Homo sapiens: one gene and its partners. The protein of the gene in region 4 purifies or fractionates together with the protein of the main gene of each other region. This does not show direct contact. Each region holds a gene or a part of one and is shown on either strand. Other genes may lie near its edges.

The links. Proteins that work in one complex are often made in the same cells at the same time.
Region 1: the proteins of TMEM72 (region 4) and ATP1A3 purify together in Homo sapiens (affinity purification with mass spectrometry; one large-scale study listed by BioGRID and IntAct). This does not show direct contact.
Region 2: the proteins of TMEM72 (region 4) and SLC25A15 purify together in Homo sapiens (affinity purification with mass spectrometry; one large-scale study listed by BioGRID and IntAct). This does not show direct contact.
Region 3: the proteins of TMEM72 (region 4) and PEX3 purify together in Homo sapiens (affinity purification with mass spectrometry; one large-scale study listed by BioGRID and IntAct). This does not show direct contact.

Annotation. Positions count from the first base shown.
Region 1 is NC_000019.10:41,987,731-41,991,230, reverse strand, and holds part of ATP1A3 (sodium/potassium-transporting ATPase subunit alpha-3), read left to right. Parts: intron 1-2,629; coding exon of another isoform or gene 2,630-2,668; coding exon 2,669-2,755; intron 2,756-2,853; coding exon 2,854-2,913; intron 2,914-3,091; coding exon 3,092-3,295; intron 3,296-3,500. UniProt on the Homo sapiens protein: This is the catalytic component of the active enzyme, which catalyzes the hydrolysis of ATP coupled with the exchange of sodium and potassium ions across the plasma membrane.
Region 2 is NC_000013.11:40,788,401-40,792,410, forward strand, and holds the start of SLC25A15 (mitochondrial ornithine transporter 1), read left to right. Parts: upstream 1-1,210; 5' UTR 1,211-1,263; intron 1,264-4,010.
Region 3 is NC_000006.12:143,485,305-143,488,804, reverse strand, and holds part of PEX3 (peroxisomal biogenesis factor 3), read right to left. Parts: intron 1-3,500. UniProt on the Homo sapiens protein: Involved in peroxisome biosynthesis and integrity. Assembles membrane vesicles before the matrix proteins are translocated. As a docking factor for PEX19, is necessary for the import of peroxisomal membrane proteins in the peroxisomes.
Region 4 is NC_000010.11:44,930,079-44,935,336, reverse strand, and holds part of TMEM72 (transmembrane protein 72), read right to left. Parts: intron 3,340-5,258; coding exon 3,268-3,339; intron 1,701-3,267; coding exon 1,561-1,700; intron 682-1,560; coding exon 203-681; 3' UTR 1-202.

The DNA.
Region 1 (3,500 bases), on a different chromosome or scaffold from region 4:
GGAGATTAGCGCTGAGCCGCGCTGAGCCTCCGATCCCAGCTTGGCCCTGGGCCTGCGGGACCTGTCAGCGGCCCCTGCAGCACCCAGCCTCGCCCCACCCCTCCCACCAGCCTCGGACACTGCCCTCCCCATCCGCCCAGGCTCCCAAACTGGAACTTCAGGGACTCACACCATGCGCAGTTCAAGCCAGGACTAGGGCTTCTGCCTCTAACTCTCCTGCTCTGTCCTCCAGGAACCTGGCCATGCCCAGCCTCTGTTAAGGACGCTCCATGGGCCCAACACATGGAAGATCCCAGAGAGAGGCAGAGACAGAGATAGAGGAAGGTACCAGAGGGAGACAGTGAGAGAGACAGAGACAGAGAGACATAGACAGAGATAGAGAGGCAGATTCCAGAGACAGAGAGAGGAGATCTCAGAGAGACAGAAATAGAGAATAAGATCCCAGAGAGAAAGTGAGAGAAAGAGACAGAGAGAGAGAGGAAGATCCCAGAGACAGACAGCGAAAGAGAGAGGAAGATCCTACAAAAAGAGACAGATATATATATATATATATATGGACAGAGAGAGAGAGAAAGAGAGAGAGAGATTGAGGAGAGCCCAGAGAGAGACAGTGGGAGAAAGAGAGACAGAGAGGAAAATTCCAGGATGAGGTAGTAAGAGAGAGAAAGAGAATGAGAGATATATGGGGAAGGAGGGGGACGGAAGATTTGAGAGAGACAGAGAGAGGGAGAGAGAGAAAGAGAATGAGAGATATATGGGGAAGGAGGGGGACGGAAGATTTGAGAGAGACAGAGAGAGGGAGAGAGAGAAAGAGAATGAGAGATATATGGGGAAGGAGGGGGACGGAAGATTTGAGAGAGACAGAGAGAGGGAGAGAGAGAGAGAGAAAGAGAAAGAGAGGAGATCTTAGTGATAGTGAGAGAGAAAGAGAGATTCAGAGATAGAGAGGAGATCCCAGAGAGAGAGAGTGGGAGAGAGACAGAGATAGGCAGATCCCAGAGAGAGATATTAGAGAGACAGAGAGAGAGACAGAGAGAGGTTGAAACAGGAAAAGAGACAGGTAGGGAGAGATGTGAGCATCCCAGAGGAGACAGCTTGAGAGATGAAGATAGAGACACAATGACAGAGAGAGACAGACCGAAAGACGGAAAAAGACAGAGACAGAAAGTACTGATCCTTGAGACGCCAACTCAGAGGGAAATAAGAACCCAGAGAGACAGAAACTCAGCCAGACCTGGGGAGACACAGCCAAGAGATGGAGACAGACATCATGCAAGGCAGAGAGACAAAGAACCAGAGATCAGAGAGAGACAAAATCATAGAAAGACACATGCAGAGAGACCCAGAGACTGGGATCAGGATAGAGAATGACAGAGACAACATAAAGAGATCAGAGCGATAGAGAGAGAGAGAGAGCTATCAAGAGAGAGAAACAGCCTTGCAAAGACAGAGATACAGAGATGGAGAGATAAAGAGACAGGAGACAGAGAGATGATGAAACAAAGCAATAAGACCAAGAGCCAAAAACAGACCTGGAGATACACATCAAGGGAGACAGACAGAGGAGAAAGAGATGGAGATACACGTGGAGACATAGAAAAGACAGATACGAGGCCGGGCACGGTGGCTCACGCCTGTAATCCCAGCACTTTGGGAGGCCGAGACGGGCGGATCACGAGGTCAGGAGATTGCGACCATCCTGGCTAACACAGTGAAACCCTGTCTCTACTAAAAATACAAAAAAATGAGCCGGGCGTAGTGGCGGGCGCCTGTAGTCCCAGCTACTCGGGAGGCTGAGGCAGGAGAATGGCGTGAACCTGGGAGGCGGAGCTTGCAGTGAGCTGAGATCATGCCACTGCACTCCAGCCTAGGCGACTAAGCGAGACTCCGTCTCAAAAAAAAAAAAAAAAAAAAGACAGATATGTAGGAAGGTTGGACAGGGCCAGGGAGAGGGAAGAAGAGACAGAAGCAGAGTTAAAATGTCACATAGAGGTGGGGCACGGTGGCTTATTCCTATAATCCCAACAGTTTGGGAGGCTAAAGCAGGAGGATCGCTTGAGTCCAGGAGTTAGAGACCAGCCTGGGCAGTGTAGTGAGACCCCATTTCTAGAAAAAAATTAAAAATTAGCCGGGCGTGGTGGCACACACCTGTAGTCCCAGCTACACAGGAGGCGGAGGCGGGAGGATCACCTGAGCCTCAGAAGTCGAGGCTGCAGTGAGCTGTGATTGCTGCACTCCAGCCTGGGCATCAGAGTGAGACATTGTTTCAAAAAACGAAAACAAAGTCACATAGACACAGAACACAAAAGGGGAGAGCCCCGCAAAGATGGGCACAGAAACAGAGAGAGACTGAAACACAGGCAGAAGCCAGACAGGGACCTTCGGGGACAGAGACTCAGAGACACACAGAACCAGAGACAGGGAAGCTGATTGCAGCAGATGAGACTCACGAGGCCTGAGAGTCACCAGAGGCAGAAGGGAGGTGAAGTCACCCAGAGGCTCCGGGAGACACAGGGAGACCCCGAGAGGCAGACAGAGACCCCCCACCCAGAGATGCAGGGGCACCGGCCAGGAGGATAGCTGGGGCATGGAGGGCCGGTGTCCTCCTGGAACCCCTTCTCGCCCGCAGTCTGGTGGCTCTGACAGCTATCGTATCGCCACCTCGCAGGACAAGAAAGATGACAAGGACTCACCCAAGAAGAACAAGGGCAAGGAGCGCCGGGACCTGGATGACCTCAAGAAGGAGGTGGCTATGGTAAGCCTCGCCCTCTGCCCGCACACCCTCCCAGAGAACCTCGCCAGTTCTTGGCTGGCCTAGGCACTCACCGTCTCCCCCAAACTCCTGTTCCTCAGACAGAGCACAAGATGTCAGTGGAAGAGGTCTGCCGGAAATACAACACAGACTGTGTGCAGGTGTGGCCAGGCTGTGGGCTGGGACCCTGGGAACTAGGGAGGAGGAGCTGGGGGCTAGGACCCCTGGGTCTGAGGGAGGAGGGGCTGTGGCTGGTGTCTTAAGTTCTGGGGGTCTGGTGAAGGCCTGGGGTGCCAGGGTTGCCCAGGGAGGGTTCTGTGTGAGTCCTCTGTCCCTCAGGGTTTGACCCACAGCAAAGCCCAGGAGATCCTGGCCCGGGATGGGCCTAACGCACTCACGCCACCGCCTACCACCCCAGAGTGGGTCAAGTTTTGCCGGCAGCTCTTCGGGGGCTTCTCCATCCTGCTGTGGATCGGGGCTATCCTCTGCTTCCTGGCCTACGGTATCCAGGCGGGCACCGAGGACGACCCCTCTGGTGACAACGTGAGTGCCTGGACCCTGCCCTGTGCAAGGCTCTGCACATTTATTTACGGACACCGCACCCCAACTTCTTCCCATCCCTCTAAGCTTTTCACAGCCCACTCTCCCCCTTTTTCCCATCTAACTCACAATCACCCAGCAAGAGAACCAGATCAAATACAAGGCAAACTGAGGCTCAGAAAAGCCAGGCTACTTGTCCAAGGCCCCA
Region 2 (4,010 bases), on a different chromosome or scaffold from region 4:
CAGTGAGCTGAGATTGCACCATTGCACTCCAGCTCGGGTGACAGAGTGAGACTCTGTCTCAAAAAAAAAAAGAAAAAAAAAGAAAAAAATAATAATCCAACAGCACATCTAAACAAGGCTTAAAGTTGTAAAATAAAATTACACTGTGTGGAGGGTGTGTGTGTGTGTGTGTGTGTGTGTGTGTGGGTGAGAGAGAGAGAGAGAGAGAGATGAGGTCTCTGTCATCCAGGCTGGAGTGCAACAGTGCCATCATAGCTCACTGCGGCCTCCAATTCCTGGCCTCAAGCGATCCTCCCGCCTTGGCCTCCCAAATAGCTAAGAATAGAGGCATGTGTCACCACACCTTTTTTTTTTTGTCGTTGTTTGTTTGTTTTTATGAAACGGAGTCTCGCTGTGTAGCCCAGGCTGGAGTGTAGTGATGCAATCTTGGCTCACTGCAACCTTCACCTCCCAGATTCAAGCGATTCTCCTGCCTCAGCCTCCCTAGTAGCTGGGGTTACAGACACGCACCACCACGCTGGATAAATTTTTGTAATTTTAGTACACGGGGTTTCACCATGTTGGCCAGGCTGGTCTTGGACTCCTGACCTCAGGTGATCCGCCTACCTCGGCCTCCCACAGTGCTGGGATTACAGGCGTGAGCCACCATGCCCGGCTAATTCCTGTATTTTCATACTTAGTTGTATTTCCTATTAGGGCCTTGGATCCCGAGTATAATTTTGTACTCAAATATAATTTATAAATAAGGCCTTAGCCTCCCAACAAGGTCAAAGTAGCTAAAAAGTAAGTCCTCCCAACCACTGACATTACCAGCCCCCAGCCCCCAGTCCCAGCCCAGCGGGCTAACAAGGGTCCGGCCTCAGAGAGGGTCTCGGGGATCCCAGAGGTGGGAAAGTCTCCGGAGGCGCAGGCCCCGCTCTCCACCTTCACCAGGGTCGGCGGCAGCACCACGCCGGGTCGCGGGCTGGCTGTGCGCGCCGCGGCCCCACGCCCACTTCCGCTTCCCGTGCTGGGGGCGGTGGCAGGGCCGGTGGGCGGTGGCGGCTCCCGGTCTCGGCTCGGGCACGGCCCTGGGCAGGCCGCCCGCCAGCCGCAGGGGCGCTCCTGAGCTTCGCGGGGCCGCAGTCCGGGATGCCTGCGCGAAGGGAGGGGCGAAGGGCCGGCCGTTGCCGACGTGGGTGTTAAGTGGCCGCCCCAGCCGGCGACCCGGAGCCGAGAGCGGGCGGCGGAGCCTGAGCTGGACGCGGCCACGCCGGCGCGGCGGTGAGCGCAGCCCGGTCTGGCGCCTGCAGCTGCGGGGAGCGCGCCAGGCAGAGGGAGCGGGGAGCGGGGCGCGGGGCGGGCCTCGGTGTGCGGGCGGCGTGACCTTCCCGAGCGGCGGGGGAAGCGGCCAGCGTCGCAGCGCACGTGCCGCGGGACTCGGAGAATCTCGGGGTTGTCGGCCTCCTTCCTGCAGTGCCCACCTGGTGGGAACTTTTGTCCTTGTTTGCCCCCAAGTCCTGTCATTTGGCTGCGGGGCTCCGCGCCTCAGGGGCGCCAGTGCTGGGCAGCATGGAGCCGCTTGTGAATGGAGACTTGCTGGCTGCCCAGGAGTGGGCGGCTGGGCAGGGGCGGTGAACGTTTAGGGTCCGGCCAAGAAAGTTGGAAGTCGTCTCCCTGACCTGTTCCTTGCGAGGCCCGGGAGGAGACGCGCCTGGCCGGTCCTTGGCGGCGAAACTGATTTGCATCTCCACGCTTTACCTAAAGCCCGGGCTCTGGGGACTGGATGGCGAGCTGGCCTGCGGCTCCTTTAGCCAGAAGCTGGGATCTTCCCGCAGCAGTTCGTGTTCCCTGGTGGAAAATGCAGCCTCATCTACTGACTCTCCCTTCCAAAAAAAAGTTATTTTCCCCAAGGGTCGAGAAAAGTGGGTGGTCGGCACTGTTGTTCCTCAGTTGCACCCTGGTGTAATTTGAGAGAGGGGTCAAAGGCGCTGAAAAGATTCTTTTTTCTATTCCAAGTGCTACAGCAAGCTCATAAATCAATTTTAATTCATGCTGAACAGTCTTGCCTCCTCCAAGCCCTGTGTCTTCTCCAAGCCAGAGCTACACATAATGTGAATTAGCTGCCCACTCCTTCTGAGTGAATCTGTTAGTACCCATCATCGTTTTCTATCCTAATAATTCTAATGGCTATTTGTAGAATTTATTTGTTTGTTTATTTTTTTGAGACGGAGTTTCGCTCTTGTTGCCCAGGCTGGAGTGCAATGGGGCGATCTCGGCTCACCGCAACCTCCGCCTCCTGGGTTCAAGCTATTCTCCTCCCTCAGCCTCCCGAGTAGCTGGGATTACAAGCATGGCCCACCACGCCAGGCTAATTTTGTATTTTTAATAGAGACGGGGGTTTCTCATGTTGGTCAGGCTGGTCTCGAACTCCCGACCTCAGGTGATCCGCCCGCCTTGGCCTCCCAAAGTGCTGGGATTACAGGCGTGAGCCACTGTGCCTGGCCTATTTGTAGAATTTAATGTGTTTAAGTTTGGCTCACCTAACAGGGTTTAATTCTTAGGGACAGATAGAATGTAATGTGATGTGACTTTCCTTCAAAATTAAGAAGGAAGTGTCTGTGCCAAAAGAAATAAGCGCATTGAGGTTTATCTAGGAGGCCACATTGTACTTGCCTCTGTCTGTCTGCTCAGTTGCCCCCGTTTTTTTCTTTCCCAAAAATATAGGGTTGGGTGTTTTGTGTTGCCTTTGGCCAGGTTGAAATACTCAGATTAACGGTTGGTTTGTAGGCACAGGCCTGAAAAGACAGGACTTTGAACTGAATCCTCTGTCACTGACAGTTGTGTGGCCTTGGAGAAGACCTTGTCTTGCTCCAGGCTTTAGTTTGCCTTCTGGGAAAGGATTAGGACCCTGATAAACTTTTTATTTATTTATTTATTTATTTATTTATTTATTTTATTTTTTATTTTCTATTATTATTATTATTTTTTTTTTTGAGACAGAGTCTCACTTTGTTGCCCAGGCTGGAGTCCAGTGGCACAATCTCGGCTCACTGCAACCTCCACCTCCCGGGTTCAAGTGAATCTTCTGCCTCAGCCTCCTGAGTAGCTGGGACTACAGGTGTGCATCACCACGCTGGGGTCATTTTTGTATTTTAAGTAGAGACAGGGTTACACCATATTCGTCAAGCTGGTCTCAAACTCCTGACCTCGTGATCCTCCCACCTCAGCCGGCCCAAAGTGCTGGGATTACAGGCGTGAGCCACCGCGCCTGGCCAGGACCCTGATAAACTTTTTTAGGAAGATACCAGATGGCCACCACCTTTTCAGCCTAGTGAATGGTCCTGTCTCTCCAGACCTATCAACAGCATATAAATCAGTGTCTTGCACTTCTAACTTAGTTGCTTTATTAAGTAATGTGCCGTTGTTGCCACTGGTTTTAAATTTTTTGTGAATAAAGGAGGATTATTGAAGTCTCGTCGTTGGCAAGATGCTTCAAGAGGTTTAAACAACTTCTCCACGGCCAATGTTTCCTGTTGACGTTCAGGGTGACATTGGTGTTAGGAGCGTGCTTGGTGTTCATCTCTGATCCAGCACGATGGGTCACACGGCTCCTCAGTGTGATGAGGAATAAGTTGTTCCTTATTATTTGCAAATAAGTTACTAACACCGTTTGAAAACTGTACAGGATTGGTCGTTGAGTTGGATATTTTAGTCAACATTTATTAAGCCCATGCCTCAACAGTAGTTGACTTTTGTCTAAAGAGAGAGAAAGAAATTCTAGTTTTCCCAAATGCCCAAGGCTCCAACCAAAACATACTGAATCCAGATTTCCAGAGGAAAGTCCTGGCAATTTGGATATTTAATAAGTGCTCCAGGTTATCAAGTGGATTTGGACACAACGGCCCAGGTGTTGTATCTCAAAGTGTGAGTCTGTGGACTGGCACTGTCCGCCTCACTTGGGAACTCATCAGAACAGGCAGAACCTCTGGTCCTGTCCAAGGCTACTGAATCAGAGGCCGCATTTTATT
Region 3 (3,500 bases), on a different chromosome or scaffold from region 4:
GACATAACACGGTTAAGGGTGTATTACTTTCTAGAAGATCTAACATACGGTATGAATATGTGTAGTAAGTGCATATTTTACATATACACACATACATGAACCACACATATACACTATAGTGTAAGGGTTATTAACACCCCAAGGGATTTGCGAATGTGAAGATAAGAAAAAAATTACACCTTCATTTTCTTTAACTTCTAACCAAAATCTGGTATCTCTTTCAATTATGAATGTAGGCAACAAACTGTGATAATATTAGCAGGTTGTATGACTTTGTCTTCAATAGAAATCATAGGCATTTTCATGTCATATGACAGTTGTGGAAGTTATCAGAACTCTCATTATATCTTGGTATTTAATGCATGAATAAAGAAGCAATACCGCTATATCATACACTTAATTTTAAAAGAAATTTTGAAAACTATATATGATTGGTTTCCTTTATAATATTATGTATTTTATTGTATGCACTTATAAATATTGTTCTGAGAAGGGGTCCATAGGCTTCACCAGTCTGTGAAAGGGTCCATGATAGAAAAGGTTGACAGCCTCTGAGAGTGTCAAAGAAATGGGAAGTAAACCTGTCCCTAGTGATCTCTGTTTCTTAAGTATCGGAAAATCCAAGTGAGGTTTAGACATGTCCTAATCTCAATCAATTCATGGTTAAATTATCTCATCAGAGAATTTGATGTTATTTAGTTTCAAGTATTCAGTCTAGGTGTTCAATGAAACATAGGTTTAGATCAATGTTTCTCAAACCAGAATTTACAGACATACTTTCAGGGGCCCAAGAATTTGAGGGGAAATTTTGTGTTTTGATTTCTATGAAAATGTAAAGAAAACTCAAACACGCTCTTGATTATTGAGAAGATAAAATATATAACCTACTATTGTTCCTGATTTTAGGGCATTTGTTTATATTTATGTTCTTATTGGCTTTAAGTAACATTACTTTAACTGTCTTGTGCTAATGAGAGAAGAACAGAGGCAGAAAATCTTTCAAATGAAGACCAAATCATGTAAAACACATGATACAAATGAAGCTTTCAGAATAGTTACAGTAGATAAAAAAAAAAATACTAGCAAGTCAGCTTCAGAAAATGCAGGCTGAATGCTCAACAGCATGAACAGTAGCAGACAGGTCCACATTCACTTTGGCACAACAAATTATTAATAGTAGACGTCAGCCATATTATAGAACAATCTTTTTTTGTAATTTAGATTCTACTTGACAATAAAAGTGCTTTGGTTTTGAGTTACGAAAAAGCTCTAATCTTAAGGATCTTATTGAGTTTTTAATTTATACACTAAAAATGATTTAAACACTGGAGGACTGTGGTATATGTGTGTACATATGTATGTGAGGTGTATGGACAAATCTGAGAAATACTACCATTGTAGTGCAAAAGCAGCCATAAACAACACATAAACCAATGGGCATGCTGTCACCCAATAAAACTTACAAAAGCTGGTGCTTGGCTGGATTTGGCTCATAGGTCATAGCTAACTTATATCAGCTTTATAATAAAGACTTTAATCTGTTCAAATACTGTATCCTGATGCAGCTTCTAGGATGTTTCAGTAGTCTGAGATAAAAATTATGTATCATAGGGTTGGTTCACACTATAAAAGCTCTTTCCTTATGTTATCTGAAAGCAATCTGAAATAATTTATCTCCTGCTTATGTTATTTGAAAGCTATTTGAAAATAATTTGAAAAACCACCTTTCTCGATTGTTTTCTGATTCTCCCATTTCCTACCTTTACCAACTACCATCCTAATATCTTCTACCAAAGGGGTCAGCAAAGTATGGCCTGCAGGCCAAATCCACTGCCGCCTGTTTTTGTATATAAAGTTTTGTTGAAACAGCCATACTCTTTTGTTCATGTACGTTTCTGACTGCTTTCACACTGCCAGAGCAGAGTTGAATAGTTTCTGTAGAGAATGTATGTTGCATTAAGCCTAAAGTATGTACTATCTGGCCCTGTACAGTTTGCCAAACCCCTGTTCTACAGCATTCCCACCATAGGCTCTCCTACACACCATTGTAGTTGAAGTAGTAGCAGTAATTCGAAAGGACTAATTTTATGTAAATTAGCATTCTAATCAAGGCAAAGGCTTTATAAAAAGATAAGTGGAAATAGTAAAGCATATGACAATTTATTAAGAAGACCACTTGGTATTTTAACTCATAGAAATTATAGTTTAAAAAATTAAACTATAATTGTAATAGCCTTGTCAATCAATGGTCTAGTATATACATTTAATATACATCCAGTTACAGTAAAAAACTTTACTAAACATTAGTATCAATGGCGTTTTTACCATATTGAAACATTTGTTTTTATTATCAATTATATCGATTTTAATTAAAGTGTAGTGCATAAAATTATTTAAGCATTAAGGCTGATGATGCTTTATGCTTGGTTGTAATTTCCACTCATCTGTCAAAATGAACAGCCTACTGGCCAAGCCAGGGACTTCTACAGAAGAGGACAAAGGTAAAGGTAAGGTTTAAATGCCCCAAGTTATGACCTTTTTCTCACATTGATATAGATGTGAAGCTTAACATTCAGTAAAATGAGATCAGTCTTATTCACTATTTCTTCTGCAATATGAGTGCCAAGCTCTTAGGGGTGAGAAAGAGGACAGAAGACTGAAGAGTCCAGTGTGGGAAAATGTGCATGTGAAGGACAGGCTGATGACACCACAGTGAAAGGAGGAAACGAACTCTTAGTCTCAGTGCTCTCCACGTTCCCAAGAGTAAAAAGTCTACAGAGAGGATACACTAAATTGTCTGAGACAAGTTACACTAAGAAGATGTCAGCTTTATGCTTAGGCCATAGGGTCTCTTCTCATTGTACATTATTGAAGCAGTTTGCAACTGGCATTGCAAACAATTTTTTAACTTATAACACAGTTTCCAAGTTTGCACATGACTCAGAAATTCAAAGTTATTTTGTTTATAATATTTGTCTTACTCAATGAATTACTGAATTACTCAATGAATTACTGAATTACTCCATGCATTCCAAATGGAAATGAAGAAATAAGATGGAGTTATAGGTAGTCTGATAAAACATTTAAATGACCCACTGTTTATGTGGCTTTTAGTGAGCATATTATTGATGCACTATTAACTGTTACATTTTATTAATCACTAAAATGCTTTACTTCTCCACAAATTTTTTTAGTTTTCCTCAAAATGTGTAGAACAGGATCCTTGATCTGCCCCAAGGATCAATCTTCTTACTAGCACAGCTTAATGCAAACATTCATGCTATATAAATTCAACTGACCACTATAATACACCTGGACTAAAATGTAGTCCCACAGTGTTGGACTACAACACGGAGAAAGGTACTCCAAACTTACACATTTGCTATGGTCCGTTATTACTCTCATGGGACACTCTACCATACTCTACATGTAGTTCCAAGTTCTGTGATTTTTTGAAAAAACCTCTCAGCAGAGAATGTAACTTTATGTTAGACAAACAT
Region 4 (5,258 bases):
CGTGAGCCTTGTTTGTGCCTCCCTCGAGGCCTCTCCAGAAATGCTGGCCAGTCACACCTCCTGATGGCCTCAGGGGCCCAGCCAGTGTGGGGGTGTCTGGTTACCCCTTGAAAAGCTGACCAGAGAAGACCCTGAAACTCCAGGGAGGGCCATTGAGCTAGGTAGACCCCTCACTGAGCGTCCTCCAGGCTGGAGCAAGCGCTCAGAACAGGCCGGTGGCTGTAAGAGATGACAGGAAGAGTGGGGCCTGGGGAGGGGGAATGATGGGTGTCGTGTCAGAGGTGGTCTCCTCTGGCTCACTGTCCCCATCATCCAGACCTTCGGCGAGGGAGGGGACTATGCGGACCAAGTTGTCTTCAAAGTGCACCTGCTTCTTCTTGGCCAGGGAGTCGGCTGGCTCCAGGCTCAGCTCCATCAGGGTGTTGGGGGGCTGGAGGGCACTGGGCTTCTTAGTCCCCTTCAGGATACTCTTCATGTGGATGAAAAGGGAGCTGGGCCCCTCCTTGAGGGCCCCATGGAAAGTGTAGGTTTGCTCTGTGTCCCCAGAGCCGGTGGTGCTCACAGCGCTGCTAGAGGGGTCTGTGTACTGCTCTGGGGAGGCCAGCACCTCGGGGGCAGCTTTCCTCTTCTTCCGCTTGCTCAGAAGGAAGTAGGCCAGGCCGGTGATGATGAGCATGGAGCCTGGAAAAGAGCCAGAGGTCAGGGCTCTAGAGGAGTCACGGAAAAAATCCGGAGTCCTTGCAAGCATGTCGTGCAGCAGAGCTCCTGCAACCCGGCGCTGTGTGGCCATTCACAGGCCCCTGTGGCCCTGGCCCTCTTGCCTGGCTTGTCCTCACACCCCACATCAGATTTGGGGGTCCACTTGGAGGCTGGGATGGGGATGCTAAATGGCAGGAAGGATGGAGGCTCTGCTTTTCAACATGGTCTCCCTGGAGGGCTGTCTTCCCTGTATTGTAGATGGGTTCATGAGGAGGGGGCACAGTTTTCACAGATAGGGAGCAGAGAGGAGAAGGACACTAGCAGAAAAGGTCGTGGATGAAACTGAAAAGGTGGGAGCAAGAAATCCTGGGTTCTCTGACCAGAAACCAGCTGGCCAGTGGTATGCACCCGTGAAGTGGAAGTAGGAGATGAGGCTGTGAAGATTTTCTGGGGTCCCACCCTGAAGTGCCTTTCAAACCAGGCTGAGGAGTTTGGACCTGAATGAGTAGGCACTGGGGAGATTCAGAAGGGTTTGGGCAGGGAAGTGGCCATGTCACACCCTTGGGAAGCTCAGACCACACATGGTCAGTGGGAGGAAAGGTGAGGTCCCCTTTGCGGTTCCACTTCTGTACGGCTCTGTGAAGGAAGGATGCACTTCTTGGGACATTCCTGCCATTTGATCAGCATGGAGTATGTCTGGCATTCCGATGATTCCTCATGTCCACCCTCTAGGTCAGAGAGGGCAGTGGGGCAGGTAAGGTCCCTGGAGCCACCACTGGAGCTAGACTTTGAGGGGCTCAGCTCCTCCTGCTCAGAGTCCACCTGTGCTGGGGCTGCATATCTCTACCCCTGTGCTCTTACCTGGGATGGTCACGTGCCAGACCAGGACCGGGTGGAGGAAGCAGGCCACCGACAGCAGCAGGTAGGCCAGGAACTTCTGGAAGCAGCCCAGCCAGTGGGCTTTCTCCCTTACTCTGTCTGCCAGGGACCCTGGTTGACACCTGGGGAGAGGGAGTCCAGGTTAGCATAATGTGTCCCAGGAAAACCCCAGCAAGACTGGATGCCATGGAGTCTGGGCCAGGCCCTGCTGTGGGCATGCTCTGCAGTGGGCCCTGGCTGAACAGAAAGCCCTAGCGGTCCTTGGTGTGGGTTCCACAATGAGTGGATTTGCCTGAGTCCCTCTAGAGGGTCCACAAGTTTTTGAAAGGCTGCCCAGACCTGTTTTTCTGGTCGAAGGGGAAGCAAGTTAAATGTTCTCAGGATGCTGCATGAGTTAGTGAGGAAGACAGCTGGAGGCTCAGGGCTCACTGGGAAGTCTGCACTAATGCAGAGAAAGTGTGCAGTTTGGGAGCCACCTGCCTGGGACAGTTGTGCTTGTAGTGCACTGCATAAGAGGCTTGGCCAGGTGAGTGAGCAGGCTGGCACCCAGCTGTGCCCTGTTCACCCAGCCTTGCTTAGGCACAGTACAGTGTTGGCCCAGAAGGGCTTCTTTTCTAACTGTATACACAGGGACCACACATAGCCCTGGCAGAAGCCTGATGCTGAGCAGCTTCCTTCAGGGGCGCTGCCTCCATGTTTCACAGGGGGCAAGTGCCTGCCTTTAGACCCAGCGCCTCCATCCTCTGAATTGGCCTAGAGCTGGGGCTCTACACAGCCACATCCTGCCCCTCTAGCTTTGAGGGAGTGCTCAGGCTGTCCAGGTGGCCCAAAGCACTGCTCTCTTATGCTCGCAGGCTGGACTGCCATGGCTCACTGGTGCCCCCTGGTGCCCATTCCTGCGTGTGTGTGGTGGCAGGGTGCGGTGGAGTCCATCCAGGGTCCATTCCTCCCCAGCCTTCTCCCCAGCTGAAGTTTCAAGCACAGCTTGGCAGTGGAATTCAGCAGAAAGGGGAAAGCTTTCTGCCTTAGGGCTGGTGAGCCTGAGAGGCAGCCAGTGGCCTTGCAAGGTGCTGGGACATCTGGATCTGAAGACTGGCTCTCTCACTGACCACCCAGGGACCAGTGTCTAGGTTCTGAGAGCCGCAGTCCTCGGTCTCACCGATAACAGCTTCCACATACTGAGTGTAGGCTGGGAAGCAGCAAGGGCCTCACGAGATCCTGCAGGGTCTGCACTCCTGCCCCACGAAGGGGTGTAGAGACATACTGCCCCTGACTTGCCCCCGGGCCCTAGGAAGAGACAGAGCCAGTTCCCAAACCCAGGTCTGCTCACTCCCAGCTGGGCCTTCTGCAGGGTCCTCACCCCATGGCAGATGGCTCAGACACTGGGGCCCAGTGACTGGCTGCTCCTGGTGAGGGGGAGCTGGACTTTTCTGGGGATTCTGGGCAAGGACAGGCCCTGAATGACTGTGTCAGTTGGTTCTCTTGGTTGGGACCAGGGCAAAGAAGGCAATGGAGCCCCTTGGGCCTGTGCCCACCTCCAGGCCAGGCTGATTGTACCTCGGTGGGGGGCTCCTGTCCACAGTGGCTTCAGGAGCAGGACATCCCCTGGTTGTGGGCTCTTGGGTGGAGACATCTGTGGTGTCTGGGGCTGGGGTGGACAATGGAGGGGTCTCTCTGGAAACTACTTACTGGAAGCAGATGGCCAGCAGCTGAGCCACAAAGTAGGCCCCTTCACATATGGAGACAGCGGCTCCTGTAAACCTGCAGGTGGAGACAGGTGAGGGAGGCTGGCGCCTCTGTCTTCCTTTGCTTTCCTGAGGGCTGTCTTCTCACACGTGGCCTCCTGACATCACATCTACAGCCAATGGACTCACCTGGATTCCCCCAGACAACATTCACCACGGGCTGTCTCCAGGACATGGCGTGTTCCGGACTGGGCCATGCTGGGGAGAGGTGGGGTCTGGGGTTCAGAGATGGGTGGGGAGGGCACCGTGGCCAGCAGGTGACATGGCCTTCACCTGGCACCCTGTGTGACACTGGCAGGCACATCCTTCTACCTGCTGGTCACCAGGATGGACACCCACTGCCTGTGTTCCAGCCTTAAACCTGGACCTGTTCCTGACCCTTTCCTTCTTCCTTTTCCTATTATCCAAATAGTCACCAGGAGCTGTTGATTACATTCCTTCAATACCTTCCAAATCGCTCCTGTTCTCTGACCTCATGGGCATTGCCTGGGTTCAGGCCCTGCCCCCTGGACCCCTGCACCAGTTCCACTTCCTCACTTACCCCAGGCCTGTCTCCTGCTCCCCCACTGTGTCACTCTGGGCTGCCTGACACCTGAATCTGATCATGTTCCTCCTGATACAGGATGCCTCAAAGGCTCCTTGTGCTCCCAGTGTGGTCCATGGATCCTGCAATCAGCATCTCCTGAGGAATGTGTAGAATTCATGGCTCCCAGGCCACCCCTAGACTCACATCAGAATCCTTGGAAATGGAATATGTACTTACGGAGGGTCTCACTGCCTATCCTCCATGTTCCCTTGACAACACAAGAAGCTATCAGGTGCCACAGGGCTTTTGCACAAGTGAGCTTTTCCTGGAAGGCCTTCCCCTTCCCTCTCCAGTCTGTCTGGTGACCTCCTCTTACTTCTCCATGTGGTACCATATGACCAGAGTCACTAGTCTGTGAACCCCCAGAGGGCGTTCCCTGTCTAATTCTTCTGTACAGCCCAGGCTCACAGTGGGTCGGGCTTATTGGGCTCCATTAATGAGCATTGCAATAAATGAAGGAATGAAAGTGGATAGTGTTGTGCAGAAGGTGGCTTGGGGTCAGGGTTTCCTCAGAGCCATGGGTGTTTCTAGATTGTGTGATCACAGGTGAGAGGTGTGACCTTTCTCTGTCTTAGTTTCCTCAGCTGTAAACTGGGGTTATTATAGTGCATCAACAGTAAAACTGTTCTAAGAATTAAATGATATTTGTAAAGCACTTAGGACCATGCTTGGCACACAGTGATTATATCAATTCTAGTTATCATTTCTCTCTCCCTGTGATTAGTTAGATCATTTAGTGATCTCCACTCCTCTCAGTCTCTATGCCTCCCAGTGTGAGCCTAACTCTTACCCCTTGGTTTTAAAATGATAATAACTAACATTTATGTAATGATTGCTATGGGCCAGGCATAATTCTAAAGGCCTTACAAATATCAACTCATTTAGTCCTTGCAACAATTTTATAATAAGTACTATATTATATTATAATAAACACTATAATTACTGTCAGTTTACCGATGAGGAAACTAAGGCACAGAGAGGTTTGCCCCATCACCAATGGCCCCTTATCAGTAGCAGGGGGAAGATCAGAACCTAGCACGCAGGCTCCAGAGCTTGTGTGCCTAACAGGCACATCAAGACGTGTTTTGCAAAATAATTGCCACTGCCTTTTTCTATGCCCTGGGACAGAGGGGTATATCAAGGCTTGGGGAATAAAGCGACTCATTCAGACTTCCTGTCTGGTGCTATTGAGTGGCAGGGAGGGACAGACAGGGCAGGTACTGAGTGCTGATCCTGCAGGTGTTAGAGAACAGGGCACAGCAAGGGGCAGGGGACCCCAGGCTGGACTGGACCACCCAGAGACCACATGGGCATAGGGTCCCCTCAAAACAGAGACAAAACAGGGTTCT